3 linked regions of the Homo sapiens genome follow. The protein of the gene in region 3 purifies or fractionates together with the protein of the main gene of each other region. This does not show direct contact. Each region holds a gene or a part of one and is shown on either strand. Other genes may lie near its edges. The genes, in order: HEATR3, NUP37 and SPAST.

Evidence for each region.
Region 1: the proteins of SPAST (region 3) and HEATR3 purify together in Homo sapiens (affinity purification with mass spectrometry, with the first as the bait; one large-scale study listed by BioGRID). This does not show direct contact.
Region 2: the proteins of SPAST (region 3) and NUP37 purify together in Homo sapiens (affinity purification with mass spectrometry; 2 studies listed by BioGRID and IntAct, with this or other methods). This does not show direct contact.

What each region holds. Positions count from the first base shown.
Region 1 is NC_000016.10:50,068,918-50,072,574, forward strand, and holds part of HEATR3 (HEAT repeat-containing protein 3), read left to right. Parts: intron 1-1,260; coding exon 1,261-1,373; intron 1,374-3,657. UniProt on the Homo sapiens protein: Plays a role in ribosome biogenesis and in nuclear import of the 60S ribosomal protein L5/large ribosomal subunit protein uL18 (RPL5). Required for proper erythrocyte maturation.
Region 2 is NC_000012.12:102,099,615-102,103,271, reverse strand, and holds part of NUP37 (nucleoporin Nup37), read left to right. Parts: intron 1-2,167; coding exon 2,168-2,240; intron 2,241-3,657. UniProt on the Homo sapiens protein: Component of the Nup107-160 subcomplex of the nuclear pore complex (NPC). The Nup107-160 subcomplex is required for the assembly of a functional NPC.
Region 3 is NC_000002.12:32,150,507-32,154,163, reverse strand, and holds part of SPAST (spastin), read right to left. Parts: intron 1-3,657. UniProt on the Homo sapiens protein: ATP-dependent microtubule severing protein that specifically recognizes and cuts microtubules that are polyglutamylated.

The sequences.
Region 1 (3,657 bases), on a different chromosome or scaffold from region 3:
GACTTTTTTTAGTACTTTGGTGTTGGTGACTTTGTCTTCTATCTAAACATCTTATGGAAATTTCATTCCTTTTCCTGGAAACACCAATCTGCTCTCATTATTGATACTAATCTCTATTATTTTGTAGCTTTATTTTTATGATAGTTGGAAAAGACTTTCCTAAAATTGTACAGACTCACTCCTTTAGATGTTAAACTTCTTACAATAAAAATAATTAGTATTTAGTCATTGCTTATTTATGTGCCAGGTATTATTTTCATGTTTTGGATATTATATAATTTAATCCTCACAGTATTCTATGAGGCAGGTATTATTCCCATTTTACAGATGACAAAGCCGAGGCACAGACATTAGGAACTTGTGAAGATTACAGTAAGTTCTCATGTTTGATCTCATTCCAGTCTTATTGCATGACATAGTCAAGAGGTTAAGGAGCTCTGTCTCTGGAGTGCCTCTGGTCCTCTATTCTGTACTGATGGGTAATTTTCACTTAAGGCTACATAAAGGATATCCAGTTTTGATGAGAGGCATCAGTCATTTTAGAGCAGTGATTCTCAACTGGGTATGATCTTGCTTCACAGGGCATAACTGGCAATGTCTGGAGACATTGGTTGTTACAGAGCTTGTGGGGTTTGCCACTGGCATCCAGTGGGTAGAGGCCAGGGATGCTGCTAAACATCCCCAAATGCACACGACAGCCCTTCCTTCCCCAACAAAGAATTTTCTGGTGGAGAATTTCAGTAGTACCTGGATTGAGAAGCCCTGCTTTAGAGGGTCTCCTGGGCTGTACTAGAGGGGCTTAAGAGCACCAGCTTTGGAGTCAAATGCTAGGGCCTGAATCCCAGCTTCACCACATGCTAATCTAACACCTTCAGCAGCCTCCCTGTACCTCACTTTCCCATTTGCAGCTGGAGATTGGGGATAATAATAGTTCACCTACCTCATAGGTTTATTGTGAGGATTAAATGACTTGATACATGTAAAATGCTTAGAATAGTACTTTAGAAGGCGCTATGTAATAAACAGAAGGTGCTAGGTAGAAGCTCTTATTTCATCTTTTGTTGCCTTCCTACTGTCTTTTATTACATTTATTAGGTAAAATACTTTGTATTGATTTTGTACTACTGTTTGTAAGGATTCGACTGGCTTGTTAACCACGGTAATTTCTGATGTCTAGCCTTTGTGTTTCATCACCATCATTACCCTATTTGTTTAATTCTTCTTAGGAACCAGGGTGCTAATCATGATATTTGGTTACAGTGTAGTGCTGGACTGGATTCAAATGAGATGTCTCTGCAGGAGAAAAAAGATCAGAACAGAAATTCTATTGAGAACATAGCCAATGAGACTGTGAACGTGCTGTGGAATATATGGTAAGATGCCTACCAAACACAGTCTCCTGCTATAGCAGTACCCAGGCTGCTATTCTCTGTTATACTGTGTAGGAATCTCTGTTCCCCTTGGTAGGCCTGTTAATCTGGGATGTTAAGACATGGTAGGGGCCGGACATGGTGGCTCATGCCTGTAATCCCAGCACTTTGGGAGGCCGAGGCGGGTGGATCACTTGAGGTCGGGAGTTTGAGACCAGCCTGGCCAACACTGTGAAACCCCGTCTCTACCAAAAATATTAAAAAATTAGCCGAGTGTGGTGGTACATGCCCATAATCCCAGCTACTCGGGAGGCTGAGGCAGGAGAATCGCTTGAACCCTGGAGGCAGAGCTTGCAGTGAGCCAAGATCGTGCCACTGCACTCCAGCCTGGGGGACAGGGCGAAATTCCTGTCTCAAAAAAAAAAAAGACTTGGTAAGAGGCAGGATCAAGTGACCTAAGATCAACCCTCCTTCCCAGTCCGTTTTCTTACTGCATCACTACATCTTTTGTTTTACGGCTTTCCTCTCCAGTCATTGCATCTGACAAAAGATAGGAGGAATCATGACCATTAGCACCTGTGGCTCCTCCTTTCCCCCGACTTCTTGTACACCCTGAGCAGAATTTGTCTTTAAGCTGGTCAGTCCCACATGCAGGTGCAGCTTTGGTTTGGCCTCTAGACTGAGATGGGGACCACAGACCTTGGCTGGTGCTTTTCTTTCTCTTTCCTGGCACTTACTGTCTGATTGGGAAGTAGATGCCTAAGAAGAGCTCCCTTGGCCCCAGGAGGAAGAAGGCCACTCTCCATTCTGTGATTGTAGCAGTGGTGAGGGTGGAGTGGACTTGCCGCTAGGAATGGAAATGGCTAGAAACACAACCTGGATTTACTTTTTTCTGCCCCATTTTATGTCCCACATTTCTAGCAAGACTCTGTCACAGTTTCTTATCTTCAGTCAGCAGCAATTACAGTGGCTGACCTAAAAGCACAGATGTTTCTTAGAATACAAGATTAAGTTGGATCCTGAAATGCCTACGTGGCAATCTGACCTTGCCTGTGATTTCATTTTAATGAATGCATTCCACCAGAAATATTAGAGAGATCAGATCTGAGGAAATGGCATTTGAGCAAAAACTGATGGGTGCTGTTTTTCTGTGCACCAGATAACTTTAAGTCATAGAAATTGTTGCATTTGGAAGTTTTTAAAAAATTTCCTTGAAAAGAATCTGAATATATCTCCAAGGTGATTTCTCTTTTCTGAATACCTATGAGCCCTGTCTGTATCACTGAGTTACTATAACTTTTAACATTTTTGTTTCATCATTTATATTTCAAATTATCTTTACACATATATGCCTTGTCTTCCTGACTAGACTGTGGGCTCCTTCATGCTGCCATAACTAGATAGGTAGGTAGGTAGGTAGATAGAAGATATGAAATATTTTTCATTACATAACAGATTTAGTTTAATAATTTAGTCAGCTCTGTTAGCGTGTCATGTGTGTATGTTATATGTATGGAGGAAACATGTACAACATGGATATTTCCTCTGGAAACATGGATACAATTATTACAATTAGCCTTGTTAACTCGTATTTAATGTGTTTGCTTATTCATAACACTGAAAGCTGAGTCTTTTATTAAAAGGTAGTATAATTTAAAAAATACTTATTGTAATTTCTCTATTGTAGACTGCAAATTCTGCTTGATGAAATTATAATTGCACTCTAAAAGGCTTGAATAAAATATAATTTTATTTTCCTTTAAATGTGTGTTTTTGTTAATGTTCTAAAATATAGTAGGTTAAAAAATAAAAAATAAATTTGTGTTTTTGTGTGATAAATATAGAGGCCTTTTATCCTCCTTTAACTTGTTATCATTGTGGTATGGAGGAAAGAAAAAACAGTAGCCTGGACCCAGGGAACCTAGGTACTGGGCCTGGCTCTACCACTAACAAAATGTGTGCTCTTTGATGGGCCACTTTACCACTTGGGGCCTGGGTCTTCACATTTATAAAATGGGGAGTTGAATTAAACGATTTACAAGATCTCTTCCAGCTCTAACCTTCTATAAGGAAACTGGCATCATGGCAAAGAGATTGATGAAAAGGTCCCATTGTGATAGAAATAAAATATAGATAGCCAGTTCTCATGTACAGTGAATGTGAATGGGTGTTAGTTCCTTCATCGATAAAAATGGTGGGTGTTTGATTCCAACTCCTTGGTTTATAAAGCCTCGTTTGTTTTTTTATGGATTGCTATGGTTGATTTCCTACTGTTAAAATGTGAATA
Region 2 (3,657 bases), on a different chromosome or scaffold from region 3:
GACATTGAACTTGGCACAAATAATTGGAAAGATATCCTGTGTTCATGGATTGGATGAATTAATATTGTTAAAATGTTCTTACTCCTCAAAGCAATCCACAGATTCAATGCAATGCCTATCTATCAAAACTCCAATGTCATTCTTCACAGAAATAGAAAAATCAATTAAAAAATTTATATGAAATTATAAAACACCCCAGATAGCCAAAGCAATTTTGAGCAAAAAAAAGAACAAACCCGGAGGCATCACACTACCTGATTTCAAAATAAAAGCTATGGTATTCAAGACAGCATGGTACTAACATAAAAAGAGATACCTTGACCAATAGAATAAGATAGAGAGCCCAGAAATAAATTCATGCATTTATGGTCAATCGATTATTTACAAAGGTGCCAAGAACATAAAATGAAGAAAGGACAGTGTCTTCAATGAATGATGTTGCAAAACTGTATTTACACACAGAAGAATGAAATTGAACCGTTATTTCACTCCATATGCAGAATCAACTGAAATTGGATTAAAGACTTAAACTTAAGACCTTAAACTGTAAAATGGCTAGAAGAAAACAGAAAAAGCTTCACAACATTAATCTCCACAACAGTGAATTTTTTGGATCTGACCCTAAAAGCACAGGAAACAAAAGCAAAACTAGACAAGTGGAATTGTATTAAACTAAAGAGCTGCACAGCAAAGGAAACAACAGAGTGAAGATGCAACCTACAGATTGTGAGAAAATATTTGCAAATCATACATCTTGATAAGGGGCTAATATCAACAATATGTAGGGAACTCAAATTACTCAATCACAAGAAAACAGTTATATTTTAAAATGGGCAAAGAACCTGAGTAGACAGACATTTCTTGAAAGAAGACATGCTTTATTCCACTACAACTTTAATTTTGCCTCTGAGAAGACCTTGGACAAAGAATCATTCCCTGGTGGCTTTGATCTGTTTTCTCTAACAACTCTTGACAAATTACTGGAAAGGGGTGTAGTAGCAAAGGTCTACCAACACATCAGGGTCTGTGGATTAAGAGCCTTTAGTTGAGAAAAAATGGCTCACTGTACTCAAACTAAAGAATAAATTTAGATTTGTGTATGATACTCTTTCTACCAAAGAATTGAAAATAAACTTTGTTTTTCAGTATATAAATATAATTTAAATTTTTTTCTCAGCCATTGTCTCACATCCTGAGAATCTAGAAAATTTAGGATTAAAGATAAACTAGTTTAAAAAGTAGTTGTTGGCCAGGCGCAGTGGCTCATGCCTGTAATCCCAGCACTTTGGGAGGCCAAGATGGGCGGATCATCTGAGGTCAGGAGTTCGAGACCAGCCTGGCCAACGTGGTGAAACCCTGTCTCTACTAAAAATACAAAAATTAGCCACGTGTGGTGGTGGGCGCCTGTAATCCCAGCTACTTGGGAGGCTGAGGTAGGAGAATCGTTTGAACCTGGGAGGTGGAGGCTGCAGTGGTATGAAATCATACCACTGCACTCCAGCCTGGGCAACAGAGCAAGTCTGTCTCAAAGGAAAAAAAAAGGAGTGTTTGCTGCTTAGGTTTTGTTTTTTAATTTAATAATCCATTGATTAACTACTGAAAAACATGTTTTAAATGTTTAAAGTATAAATAATACTCCAGCTTTTAGTAGGTATAAATATTATCAGCTTTTATAGTTATAAAAATAGTATCTTACTTCATCTGATTTATTTGGAGGAATAGAAAAAACTAAGGATTATGGATAACAGAAGAGGGCAAAGACTAAGGTAGATGTATAACAATATTTTTAATATGTCTTGGTGACCTGGCTAAAATGAAGATACTTTTTAAAATCCATCCTTTTATGCTTTTAAGAAAACGTTTAAAATTAAATTCAAGTGCTGATTTAGTGTAAAATTCTACACTTTTATTACTGAAGAAGCACATCCAGAATAGACTAACCTTTTGTGTGTTCTCAAAATAAAATAATATGACTCCTACTTTCTGTGATGGCTGTATAATACTTTTTACAGTAGAGCCACAACATTCTTCTTTCCCCCTCCATAAAAAGCATGATTATGAGTTATGATAAAAGCTTCAGTGATCTGAAGGGAAGGATGGGGGGGAGGGGGAGACCTTTCACTTACAAAGGCTAAAAATTGGTATATTTTTGTTTTTTTGCTTCCAGATTTTGTACTTCAGCTGCTGATATGAAAATTAGATTATTTACTTCAGATCTTCAGGATAAAAATGAATATAAGGTATGTTGACAACCATATAAATCTTTAGAGCTTATTTTAAAACGTGTTTGTTTTTTGCTTTTTTAATTGGATTTATTCCAATTTAAAATGGCTTTTTATGGTCATCATTAAAGTATATAATTTAGAGTCTCATTTACTCTACTATAGGTTATAATAACTAGCTTACTATATTATTAAGAACTAAGTTCTTAATGACTGCAGATTATAAATCTGATATCTCTTATTAAATTGAAATATTAGGTAGGAACAACAAATAAGAAAACTAGAAATTTACAGTTGGATATAGTAGGAGTATAATAGACATGACCATTCATAGAGTAAGAGTTGAACTTCATGGGAACAAATGATCAGTACAGCATAGCACAGGCAGAATTCCAAAGCGGTTAAGAGCACAGACACAGAAGCCAGATTCCTTGCATTTAAACTCCAGTGTTATTACTTAGTCGTGGTGTGACCTTGGTTAAGTAACCTAATCTCTTTGTGCTAATATCCTTACCTGTAAAATGTGGGTAATCATAGCAGCTGCCTTATAGGATTATGAGCATTGACTGAGCAAATTCATATAAAACGCTTAGAATAATGTTGATACATAGTAAACGCCGTATGTGTGTTTTCTATTACTATAATAATAACCCTCAGATTGGGTCAAAATTGCATCATGTTTTCTTTTAAGAATGGTATTGCCTTCTTGGCTTTCTAATAAGCCAAAATATGAATATTGTTATAAAACAAAGATAAATTACAAACCTTTCCAATCATTTAGAAAATAGTAAAAATTATGCTGTAAGCTATTTACAGTGGGCTTAATGTACTGTATGGATTGGTTAATTTAAGGCTGTACCAGAAATAACCAAGTATATAAATGGCACATAAAATTTTGACCTATCCAAAGTTAATATGCTAGTTATAATACACATTAAACATTTACGGTTAATTTAGTTTGTCTTGTAGACTGTGACAGAAGCTTTGGAGAATGATTTGGAGGACCTGGGTTTGTTAAAGTTGCTCAGGAATGTTTGACCCAAATCTTTTTGTTTTTTGTTTTTTTTTTAATATTACATTTCTACATAGTGAGCAGTACTATATAGAACTGCTTTAATAACCTCAGAACTGAGATCAAATTTGAGTTTTTGGAAAGAAGGAAGGGTAGAAAGAATGATAACCATTAAAGTAATTATCTGACAGGCCTATTTAGGATTTCAACTATGAAGATTTAGACAGATTGAACTTTATCTGCTCACACAGTCCTCCACTGTGCAACTTCTCATTTGTTGCTTCTGTGTCGAGATTTTTTGTGTTGGTGATAACTATGGGCTTATAACAACTAGCTGTCTTCACTGCTAGCAGTCACATTGAGCATGTAAATGAAGGCATTAGATGGTGAAGTCCATCCTGTGTGTGTTTGTTAAGTAGTGAG
Region 3 (3,657 bases):
TTTATTACTTGTGTTTAGTTTCATAGGTATTAACATTTGAAAGCATAATATTTTTCCAATATAAAAACAAAACACAATCATTTATAGAAAAGTTCAAAAATACAGACAAAGAGAAAAAAAGAATCACAATTTCACCACTCAGATATGCAACCTCCCCCTCCAAGGTTCAAGCAATTCTTCTGTCTCAGCCTCCCGAGTAGCTGGGATTACAGGCACATGCCTCCATGCCCAGCTAATTTTTGTATTTTTAGTAGAGACAGGGTTTCGCCATGATGGCCAGGTTGGTCCTGAACTCCTAACCTCAGGTGATCCGCCCACCTTGGCCTCCCAAAGTGCTGGGATTACAGACGTGAGCCACTTTGCCCAGCCTAAAGTATGCATTTTTATATTAATTTGGTCTTATTTTCTGATCTTTTAAATTGCCTTTGGAAATATAGATTAAAACAATGCTGAGTTAATGAATATCTATATTTACACCTAAGTATTTTTAAAAGGCAAAATGGATAGGTTCACAGAGTCCAGGCAATAGAAAAATTAATAAAAATTTTGGCCAAGCACGGTGGCTCACACCTGTAATCCCCGCACTTTGGGAGGCCAAGGCGGGTGGATCACCTGAGGTCAGCAGTTCGAGACCAGCCTGGCCAACATGGTGAAACCCCGTCTCCACTAAAAATACAAAAATTAGCCAGGCAGGTGCCTGTAATCCCAGCTACTCAGGAGGCTGAGGCAGGAGAATCGCTTGAACCTGGGAGGTGGAGGTTGTAAGTGAGCCGAGATCGTGCCATTGCACTCCAGCTTGGGCAATGAGTGAGACTCCCTCTCAAAAAAAAAAAAAAAAAAAAAAATTAAGGCAAAATGCAGTTTGGCATAAATGACCTGTGTTAAAAATCATTTCTAGCGTATACCTGTATTTTGGCCCAAAAATAAGAAGTTAAAGAACTTTAAACAAAACTCCAACAACTGGTATTTATCCGTATTTTAAAAACTACTCTTAAAAACCCAATCTAACTTCATATCATCTTTGATATCTCCATGAGATATCACCTACACTTGTAACTTGTAAACTAATCTGAAAAATTTTAGCCAAAAAGAAAAAAACATATAGTTAAAATATAGGCTGGCTGCAGTGGCTCGCACCTGTTAATCCCAGAACTTTGGGAGGCTGAAGCAAGTGGATCACTTGAGCCCAGGAGTTAGAGACCAGCCTGGGCAACATGGCAAAGCCTCATCTCTACAAAATGTACAAAATTTAGCTAGGCATGGTGGCGCACGCCTGTAGTCTCAGCTACTAGGGAAGCTGAGGTGGGAGGATCACTTGAGTCTGGGAGGTTGAGGCTGCAGTGAGCCATGAGCATGCCAATGTATTTCAGCCTGGGAGACAGAGTGATACCCTGTCTCAAAAAAAAAAACCCCAAAAACCCAGCAACCCCCCACCAAAGAAAACCCCATAAGCACTATATGAACCCTACTTGTTTCCTATTTAACTGTAACACACACACTGCCTCTTCCTAAAGGCCAAAGTGTAGAAGAATAATGAATGTAACATGGGTATTAAACATGATATTACTAAATAAAATTTATTTGTTATAGAAATTAATATTTTTGTTTTGAGACAGGGTCTCACTGTTACCCAGGCTGGAGTGCAGTGGCATGATCTCGGCTCACTGCAACCTCTGCCTCCCAGGCTTAAGAGATCCTCCCAAGTAGCTAGGACTATAGGTGTGCGCCACCACGCCCAGCTAACTTTTTGTAATTTTTGTAGAGATGAGGATTTCACCATGTTATCCAGGCTGGTCTCGAATTCCTGAGCTCAAGGGATCCAATGGCCTGAGCCTCCCAAAGTGCTGGGATTATAGGCATGAACAACCACGCCTGGCCAGAAATTAAGGTTTTAAAAGATGTTGATGTAATTGTACTTTAAGTCTATAGTTTGATATGTGTATATATATGAAACTTATATGATATTTTAACGTAAGAGACTAATGTATACAACAGGAAAAAGGCAGATGGTAGCTGGTTCAGTTAAGGGGGGAAATAAGTAGAAAAGTTGTCTTATCAAACCAAAATAATAAAGGACTTAAAGTTAAATTAGATACACAAGGTACTTAAAAAACAAAGTATATTGTACCCCAATTTATAACCAACAATTTTAGTACTAACCTTAAAAATACAGAAATTCCAAACCAATTATTTGAACTTCTACTATTATAAACTGTAAAAGATAAGTTGGGTTTTTCTTTTTTTTTTTTTTGGAGATGGAGTCTCGCTCCTGTCGCACAGACTGGAGTGCAGTGGTACGATCTCAGCTCACTGCAACCTCCACCTCCCCAGGTTCAAGCAATTCTCCTTCCTCAGCCTCCCGAGCAGCTGGGATTACAGGCATGTGCCACCACGCCCGGCTAATTTTTGTATTTTTAGTGGAGACGGGGTTTCGCCACGTTGGCCAGGCTGGTCTCGAACTCAAGACCTCAGGTGATCCAACTGCCTCGGCCTCCCAAAGTGGTAGGATTACAGGCGTGAGCCACTGTGTGCGACCAAGTTGGGTTTTCCTTACCTAAATTTATATATATTCACCGGTAACTGACAATACACTTTGGTATTAAAGTTGCATCAAATAATGGGTATATAAAATTCTAGTATACAGTTTTAGAGAGCAAACTACTTGTGTTTACGTCTCATCCCATAAATGGAAATGAGAGAATGGATTACCTTAATCTCTATAATAAAATGCCACTATCAGTTTTATATTTTTTAAAGTTATTTAATGGATCTTTACATAGTGTTTACTACGTGCCAGCTACTTTAAGTGCTTTATAAATATTAACTCATAAGTAAGCAATAACAGCTAAAGGTCATTATCAAATTATTAATACCAAAACCACTAGATTAAAAAGAAACAACTGAATGAAAGTATATAGTAGAGCCAGGCATGGTGGCTCACACCTGCAATCCCAGCACTTTGGGAGGCCGAGGTGGGCGGATCTCCTGAGGTTGGGAGTTCCAGATCAGCCTGACCAACATAGTGAAACCCCGTCTCTACAAAAACACAAAATTAGCCAGGCATAGTGGCGCATGCCTGTAATCCCAGCTACTCAGGAGGCTGAGGCAGGAGAATCACTTGAACCCAGGAGGCGGAGGTTGCAGTGAGCCGAGATTGCACCATTGCACTCCAGCCTGGGCAACAACAGCGAAACTCAGTCTCAAAAAAAAAAGTATACAGTAGAACCAAATATTGTAACAATATAACCTGAATATATATAATTAATGGGATGCTCACAAAAGGGACCAGTAATATTCTTCCTTGTAAATCACTCAGTAGTTTTATTAAGCTTTAATTTTTAGTTTTACCATCTAAATTTTTAATAAATAATGTTATGACTTTTAAAAAATGGTGGATAAAATTATATTTTTAGGTGTGGGATTAAAAATTTCAAGTCTGGCACGGTGTCACACCTGTAATCCCAGCATTTTGGGAGGTGCAAGTGGGAGGAATGCTTGAGGAATCTGAGACCAGCCTAGGCAACATAGTGAGACCCCATCTCTACAAAAAATTAAAAATTTAGCTGAGTGTGGTGGTACATGCCCGTAGTCCCAGCAACTCAAAAGGCTGAGGCAGGAGGATTGCCTGAGCCCAGGAGCTAGAGGGTGCAGTGAGCC